Linked DNA regions of Homo sapiens. The protein of the gene in region 2 purifies or fractionates together with the protein of the main gene of each other region. This does not show direct contact. Each region holds a gene or a part of one and is shown on either strand. Other genes may lie near its edges.

Region 1 (3,651 bases), on a different chromosome or scaffold from region 2:
AGGCTGAAGTAGGAGGACTGCACCATGGCACTACGATCTGGGTGACAGAGTGAAACCTTGTCTCAAATAAAAAATGAATTTTTTGGGCAGAAATTCAAATTTTCCAGAGAAACTTATTAAAATAAACTCTAACCTCTAATATCCTTTTGATTCTACTTTTAGACATCAGGAAATCCTTTTGCAAATCAATTAACTCTTGAAGTATGGTAAGTTCACTAATAATCCTATTAGTACTCAGAAAGACCAAAGAGAGGTGAATGAAATGGCAAAGATGCCCAGAAGGAAATGACATGGCATGAATCAGTATCAGCTGTCTAGTCTCTGTACTTCTGCGGCTAAGGATCACTCAGTGCAATACCCCCAACTCCGCACATTCCCACCAATTAGTTATATCAAAAACTGCTTGTGAATCCCAAATGATGGGAAAAATAAAAACACTTTAGTACTGCCATCAAGGTACCCTGGGGCTGGGCACAGTGGCTCATGCCTGTAATCCCAGCACTTTGGGAGGCCAAGGCGGGCAGATCACCTAAGGTCTGGAGCTCGAGACAAGCCTGGCCAACATAGCAAAACCCTTCTCTACTAAAAATTACAAAAATTGGCCAGGCGCGGTGGCTCACGCCTGTAATTCCAGCTCTTAGGGAGGCCGAGGTGGGCGGATCATGAGGTCAGGAGATCGAGACCATCCTGGCTAATACGGTGAAACCCCGTCTCTACTAAAAATACAAAAAATTAGCCGGGCGTGGTGACGGGCGACTACAGTCCCAGCTACCCAGGAGGCTGAGGCAGGAGAATGGCGTGAGCCCGGGAGACGCAGCTTGCAGTGAGCCAAGACCGCGCCACTGTACTCCAGCCTGGGTGACAGAGCGAGACTCTGTCTCAAAAATAAAAAATAAAAATTAGCTAGGCATGGTGGCGGGTGCCTGTAATCCCAGCTACTTGAGAGGCTGAGGCAAGAGAATAGTTTGAACCCAGGAGGCAGAGGTTGCAGTGAGCCGAGATTACGCCACTGCACTCCAGCCTGGGTGAGAGTGAGACTCCATCTCACACACACACACACAAAAAAAGGTACCCTGGGAGGTCTGTGAAGAGAACAGCAGGTTATAAAAAGGGATTACAAAAGACCACTTTTGCTGCCACCCTCGGCCCTCCCTGGGATAGTAAGCCAGAGTACTGAGGGTGAACGAGCCAATTCTTGTCATGGACGATAACTGCTTTTTAGAGGTCACAAAAGCTCTGGTATACTAAACTCCTTAAAACCGGAATGAGACAAATGTGTATATTCCACACTGAGTTTGTTTGGCGAGTTAGACTTTGACTTTGCAACTCCAAGGTAAAATCAAATGCTGTTCAGAGACCATTATCAAGAATATGTTGAGCAGTGGCTCAATGCTGGCAGAAATCTCACCTACTAGAATGACTTTTTTTTTTTTTTTTGAGATGGAGTCTCACTGTTGCCAGGCTGGAGTGCAGTGGTGCGATTAGAATGACTTCTGAAAATAATATTTGTCTATCATGAAGAGACAAACTGGGTCCCAAGTTTGGGAACGTCCATAGGCTGTTAAATGGAGCCAAAGATAGGATTCACACTGCTGCAGACTCAAGATGCAGAACTCAATTCAGCAGGGGAAAGAAACCTAGCAAGTTCAGAATGGATCCTCTGAGATGTCAAAGAGACCAGTGGAGATGCAAATCTCAAGCCTCACTATAAAAACTAAAGTCTAGCTGGGCGCAGTGGTGGCTCATGCCTGTAATCCCAGCACTTTGGGAGGCTGAGGTGGGCAGATCACGAGATTAGGAGTTCCAAGACCAGCCTGGCCAAGATGGTGAAACCCCATCTCTACTAAAAATACAAAAATCAGCTGGGCGTGGTGGCATGTGCCTGTAGTCCCAGCTATCCAGGAGGCTGAGGCAGGAGAATCACTGGAACCTGGGAGGTGGAGGTTGTGGTGAGCCAAGATCACGCCACTGCACTCCAGCCTGGGCAACAGAGCGAGACTCTGTCTCAAAAATAAATAAATAAATAAATAAATAAATAAATAATAAAAAATAAAGTCTGGCCAGGCATGGTGGCTCACGCCTGTAATCCCAGCACTTTGGGAGGACAAGGAGGATGGATCACGAGGTCAGGAGTTCAAGACCAGCCTGGCCAAGATGGTGAAACCCCGTCTCTACTAAAACTACAAAAGTTAGTTAGGCACAGTGGCAGGCACCTGTAATCCCAGCTACTTAGGAGGCTGACGCAGGAGAGTCGCTTGAACCTGGGTGGCAGAGGTTGCAGTGAGCCGAGATCGCGCCACTGCACTCCAGCCTGGGCGACAGAGTGAGACTCTGTCTCAAAAAAACCCAAAAAAACAAAAAACTAAAGTCCAGGCATGGTGGCTCACGCCTGTAATAATCCCAGCACTTTGGGAGGCCAAGGCAGGTGGACTGCTTGAGGCCAGGAGTTCGAGACCAGCCTGACCAACATGGCAAAACCGTGTCTCTATTAAAAATACAGAAATTAGCCGGGAATGGTGGTGCACACCTGTGATCCCAGCTATTTGGGAGGTTAAGACACAAGAATTGCTTGAACCTGTAAGGCAGAGGTTGTAGTGAGCTAAGATCGTGCCACTGTACTCCAGCCTGGGCGACAGAGTGAGACTCAAAAAAAGAAACAAACAAACAAAAATCGCTAAAGTCTTCATAAGTGAAATCATGGAGGATATAATCCAAGTAAAGGGCTTAGCACAATGCCCACTACGTAGTAATAATAGTAACATTTACTAAACACTTAACCATAGTGACTCCTCAGTTGTCTCTCAAGAGAGCAGCTCTAGAAAGTTGTTGTTCTGTTTATTTTTTTGAGATGGAGGCTCTCTCTGTCGCCCAGACTGAAGTGCAATGGCGCCATCTGGGCTCACTGCAACCTCTGCCTCCCGGGTTCAAGTGATTCTCTTGTCTCAGCCTCCCATGTAGCTGGGACTACAGGTGTGTGCCACCACGCCCAGCTAATTTTTGTATTTTTAGTAGAGATGGGGTTTTGCCATGTTGGCCCGGCTGGTCTCGAACTCCTGACCTCAAGTGATCTGCGCACTTCAGCCTCTCAAAGTGCTGGGACATTTTTGAGGCAAATACTGAGCCTATGGAGGAATTCCGGTTTAGTATTTTTGGCGCTCTCAATAGAGAACACCATATTTTTGTCCCTTAAATGTAACAATCACAAGGACATCTTCTTTGAGGAATTGGAAGAGAGGCCTGAAGGGTAGAGATTTCAGATAAAAAGCTGAAGAGAAAGAGTTAAAGAAGCATCCTCCTGAAGTTACTAAATGTATGGCTCATAAATCTATGGGCTCTATAGGGAAAGGGTTAACTGCCAACTTAGTAAAGCTGGGGAATTTTAGCGTGAGCATATTAGTTGAACAATGTGAAAAATCAGCAAAACTGCTGTGCCATGAGCAGCGAGTCCCTGAAATAGGCTCTCATTTACTTTCCATTTCTTCTGCTTTCCAGTCTCTTCTCTTTGAAGCAGCTCTTGATTAGTTTCTTTTTAATTGCCATTTAATTGGGAAACAAAATTAGAACACTTATTTGATATCAGTGATGAGGTTTCTCTTTCCATTCTGCTTTGATCTAGTTTTGAAAAACCAAAAGTTGAAGGGAGAAATTAAA
Region 2 (3,751 bases):
GCAGGGTGAAATGTATAATTGTATGGTATGTGAATTATATCAATAAAGCTGTTAAAGATGACACTGCAGGCCAGGCACGGTGGCTTACGCTTGTAATCCCAGCACTTTGGGAGGCCGAGGTGTGTGGATCACCTGAGGTCAGGAGTTTGAAACCAGCCTGGCCAACATGGAGAAACCCCATCTCTACTAAAAATACAAAAAAATTGGCTGGGCGCGGTGGCTCACACCTGTAATCCTGGCACTTTGGGAGGCTGAGGCGGTTGGATCACAAGGTCAAGAGATTGAGGCCATCCTGGCCAACGTGGTGAAACCCCGTCTCTACTAAAAATACAAAAAAATTAGCTGGACATGGTGGAGTGTGCCTGTAATTAGCTACTAAAAATACAAAAAAATTAGCTAGACGTGGTGGTGCATGCCTGTAATCCCAGCTACTCGAGAGGCTGAGGCAGGAGAATTTCTTGAACCCTGGAGGCGGAGGTTCCAGTGAGCCGAGATCGCGCCACTGCATTCCAGCCTGGGCGGGGGAGCAAGACTCTGTCTCAAAAAAAAAAAAAAAAAAAAAAAAAAAAAATTAGCCAGGCGTGGTGAAACCCCATCTCTACTAAAAAATATAAAAATTAGTCAGGCGTGGTGGCGGGTGCCTGTAATCTCAGCTACTCAGGAGGCTGAGGCAGGATAATCGCATAAACCCGGGAGGCAGAGGTTGCAGTGAGCCGAGATCGCACCAGCGCACTCCAGGCTGGGTGACAGAGTGAGACTCTGTCTCAAAAAAAAAAAAAAATTACACTGCAAAAGGCTCCAAAAAATACAGAAACAAACAAGGAAGAGACAGGAACGTGCATCTCATCTGGCAGTTTTCTGAGCCTCTTCTTGGAGCCTCACGCAGTGGTCGCCTTGAATGTATCAAAATCCATTGTGGTTTAAATCTCGGAGGCATCTGGGAGGCAGTGAGGACGGCTCTCACCTCCCCGCTGTCCTCGCCGCTGCCCCAGGGCCTCTGCACGGCTGCCTCCTCACCTGCTTTGGGACTGTTCAGTTTTACCTTCTCCGTGGGGCTCACCCACACCCACACTGCTACCCTGGGCCCCAAACCTGTCTGCGTTTTCCCTCACGTTCAGTGCCTCCTCATACACCAGACTGTGTTCACTTATCACATTTACTGACGACTTTCTCTCTCCCATCCTGAGAACATCTCCTTCTTTTCCGTCTGTTCGTGTCCAGTTCTCACCACCCCCAACAGAGGCTGGTACACAGTAGGTGCCCAGTACATGCTTTGGCAGGAATGAGTGACAGGATGAGGCAGTGAATGCTTCTTGGCTCAGAGCTGAAACTCCCAGAGTTGTGTACTTGCTGTATGACCTTGGGCTGTGCCTCAGTTTCCCCAGGTGTAGAAACGGGGCCACGCCACCCACGACCCCGCCAGGCCCTCCTGCTGCAAGGCTGTGGGTGTCATGTTTGCAGGTCTAGTTCCCTGGGGCCGGCCCTGGCCCCAGCTGCCCAGCTCTGCCGGCTCCCGGGAGACGCACTCTGCTGACACCGGACTCTTTCCTGGACCATCCAGCCGCCTGGCCGACACTCGATCCCGGCCCCACTTCCAGGCCAGTGTCCGGCCGACCAGCCTGCCTTGGGCCAGGGCCCCACGACTCCCTGCTGCGGGACAAGAGGCCGTCTGTGCGGCTGTGGTCGTGGGAGGGTGTGGTGAGGCCGTGAAGGTGGGGACGGTGCCTGGGCCTGTGGCCGCCAGAGCTGCTGCGGCTCAGAAGGTAGCACCAGGCCCCGTGGGTGCTGTGGGGGCCATCGCCTGCCCACCATGGGGACCCTCAGCTGCGACTCCACCCCACGGCTGGCCACAGCCCCCCTTGGCCGGCGAGTGACGGAGGGCCAGATTCCGGAGACCGGCCTGAGGAAGTCCTGTGGGACGGCCACCCTGGAGAACGGTGCGTGCCAGCCGTGGGGGATGGGTGGGACCTTTTCCTGCTCCACTCCCCATACTTCTGGGGCTTCTGGAATGTTCTGGGAGCCCAGCAGGAGGCAGGAGTTTCAGGCAAGTCCTTGCCCTTCCCCAGACCTCAGTTTTCCTTCCGGCAGGATGGGTGTGGACACGGGGTTGCCGTGAGCCCCGAGTATGTGTCTGTCCAACGGAAGCTGCGTGCTTTGCCAGCCGGGTCCCCTTCCAGGGGCTGTGGGTACAGCAGTGGGCAAAGCCACAGCGATCATGCGGGAGACGCGGGGAGGAGGGAATATTTCCAGCGTGGCCCTCAGGGACGGGCGCCCTAGACAACGTGGGGCAGGGCGAGGGGCGCGTGTGCGGAGGCGGCTCTGCTGGGAGCCACATCAGCTGCTGGCCTCGGTGAGGGCCCAGGACGGGCCGCAGTTTCCTCACCCACAATTAGCGGCTGGAGTCAGGCCCCAAGCCAGGTCCTCGGGCTGGTTCTGTGGTCTCTCCTGATCCCTGTGGCATCGAGATTCTGCAGAAGCCACAACACATGGCGTCTGTGACCGTGTATCTCTGGGAGGCTCAGGCCTCAGTCTCCCCATCTGTGATCGTGTATCTCTGCCTGGGCCTCAGTTTCCCCATCTGTGACCGTGTATCTCTGCCTGGGCCTCAGTTTCCCCATCTGTGACCGTGTATCTCTGCCTGGGCCTCAGTTTCCCCATCTGTGACCGTGTATCTCTGCCTGGGCCTCAGTCTCCCCATCTGTGACCGTGTATCTCTGCCTGGCCCTCAGTTTCCCCATCTGTGACCGTGTATCTCTGGGAGGCTCAGGCCTCAGTCTCCCCATCTGTGATCGTGTATCTCTGCCTGGGCCTCAGTCTCCCCATCTGTGATCGTGTATCTCTGCCTGGGCCTCAGTTTCCCCATCTGTGACCATGTATCTCTGCCTGGGCCTCAGTCTCCCCATCTGTGACCGTGTATCTCTGGGAGGCTCAGGCCTCAGTCTCCCCATCTGTGACTGTGTATCTCTGCCTGGGCCTCAGTTTCCCGATCTGTGACCGTGTATCTCTGCCTGGGCCTCAGTCTCCCCATCTGTGACCGTGTTTCTCTGCCTGGCCCTCAGTTTCCCCATCTGTGACCGTGTATCTCTGGGAGGCTCAGGCCTCAGTCTCCCCATCTGTGATCGTGTATCTCTGCCTGGGCCTCAGTTTCCCCACCTGTGACCGTGTATCTCTGCCTGGGCCTCAGTTTCCCCATCTGTGACCATGTATCTCTGCCTGGGCCTCAGTCTCCCCATCTGTGACCATGTATCTCTGCCTAGGCCTCAGTTTCCCCATCTGTGACCGTGTATCTCTGGGAGGCTCAGGCCTCAGTCTCCCCATCTGTGACCATGTATCTCTGCCTAGGCCTCAGTCTCCCCATCTGTGACCGTGTATCTCTGGGAGGCTCAGGCCTCAGTCTCCCCATCTGTGACCGTGTATCTCTGGGAGGCTCAGGCCTCAGTTTCCCGATCTGTGACCGTGTATCTCTGCCTGGGCCTCAGTCTCCCCATCTGTGACCGTGTATCTCTGCCTGGGCCTCAGTTTCCCCATCTGTGACCATGTATCTCTGCCTGGGCCTCAGTTTCCCCATCTGTGACCATGTATCTCTGCCTGGGCCTCAGTCTCCCCATCTGTGACCATGTATCTCTGCCTAGGCCTCAGTTTCCCCATCTGTGACCGTGTATCTCTGCCTGGGCCTCAGTTTCCCCATCTGTGACCGTGTATCTCTGCCTGGGCCTCAGTCTCCCCATCTGTGACCGTGTATCTCTGGGAG

What was found.
Region 1: the proteins of CIMAP1D (region 2) and NMT1 purify together in Homo sapiens (affinity purification with mass spectrometry; 3 studies listed by BioGRID and IntAct, with this or other methods). This does not show direct contact.

The regions. Positions count from the first base shown.
Region 1 is NC_000017.11:45,067,666-45,071,316, reverse strand, and holds part of NMT1 (glycylpeptide N-tetradecanoyltransferase 1), read right to left. Parts: intron 1-3,651.
Region 2 is NC_000019.10:472,807-476,557, reverse strand, and holds the start of CIMAP1D (protein CIMAP1D), read left to right. Parts: upstream 1-1,574; 5' UTR 1,575-1,810; coding exon 1,811-1,937; intron 1,938-3,751.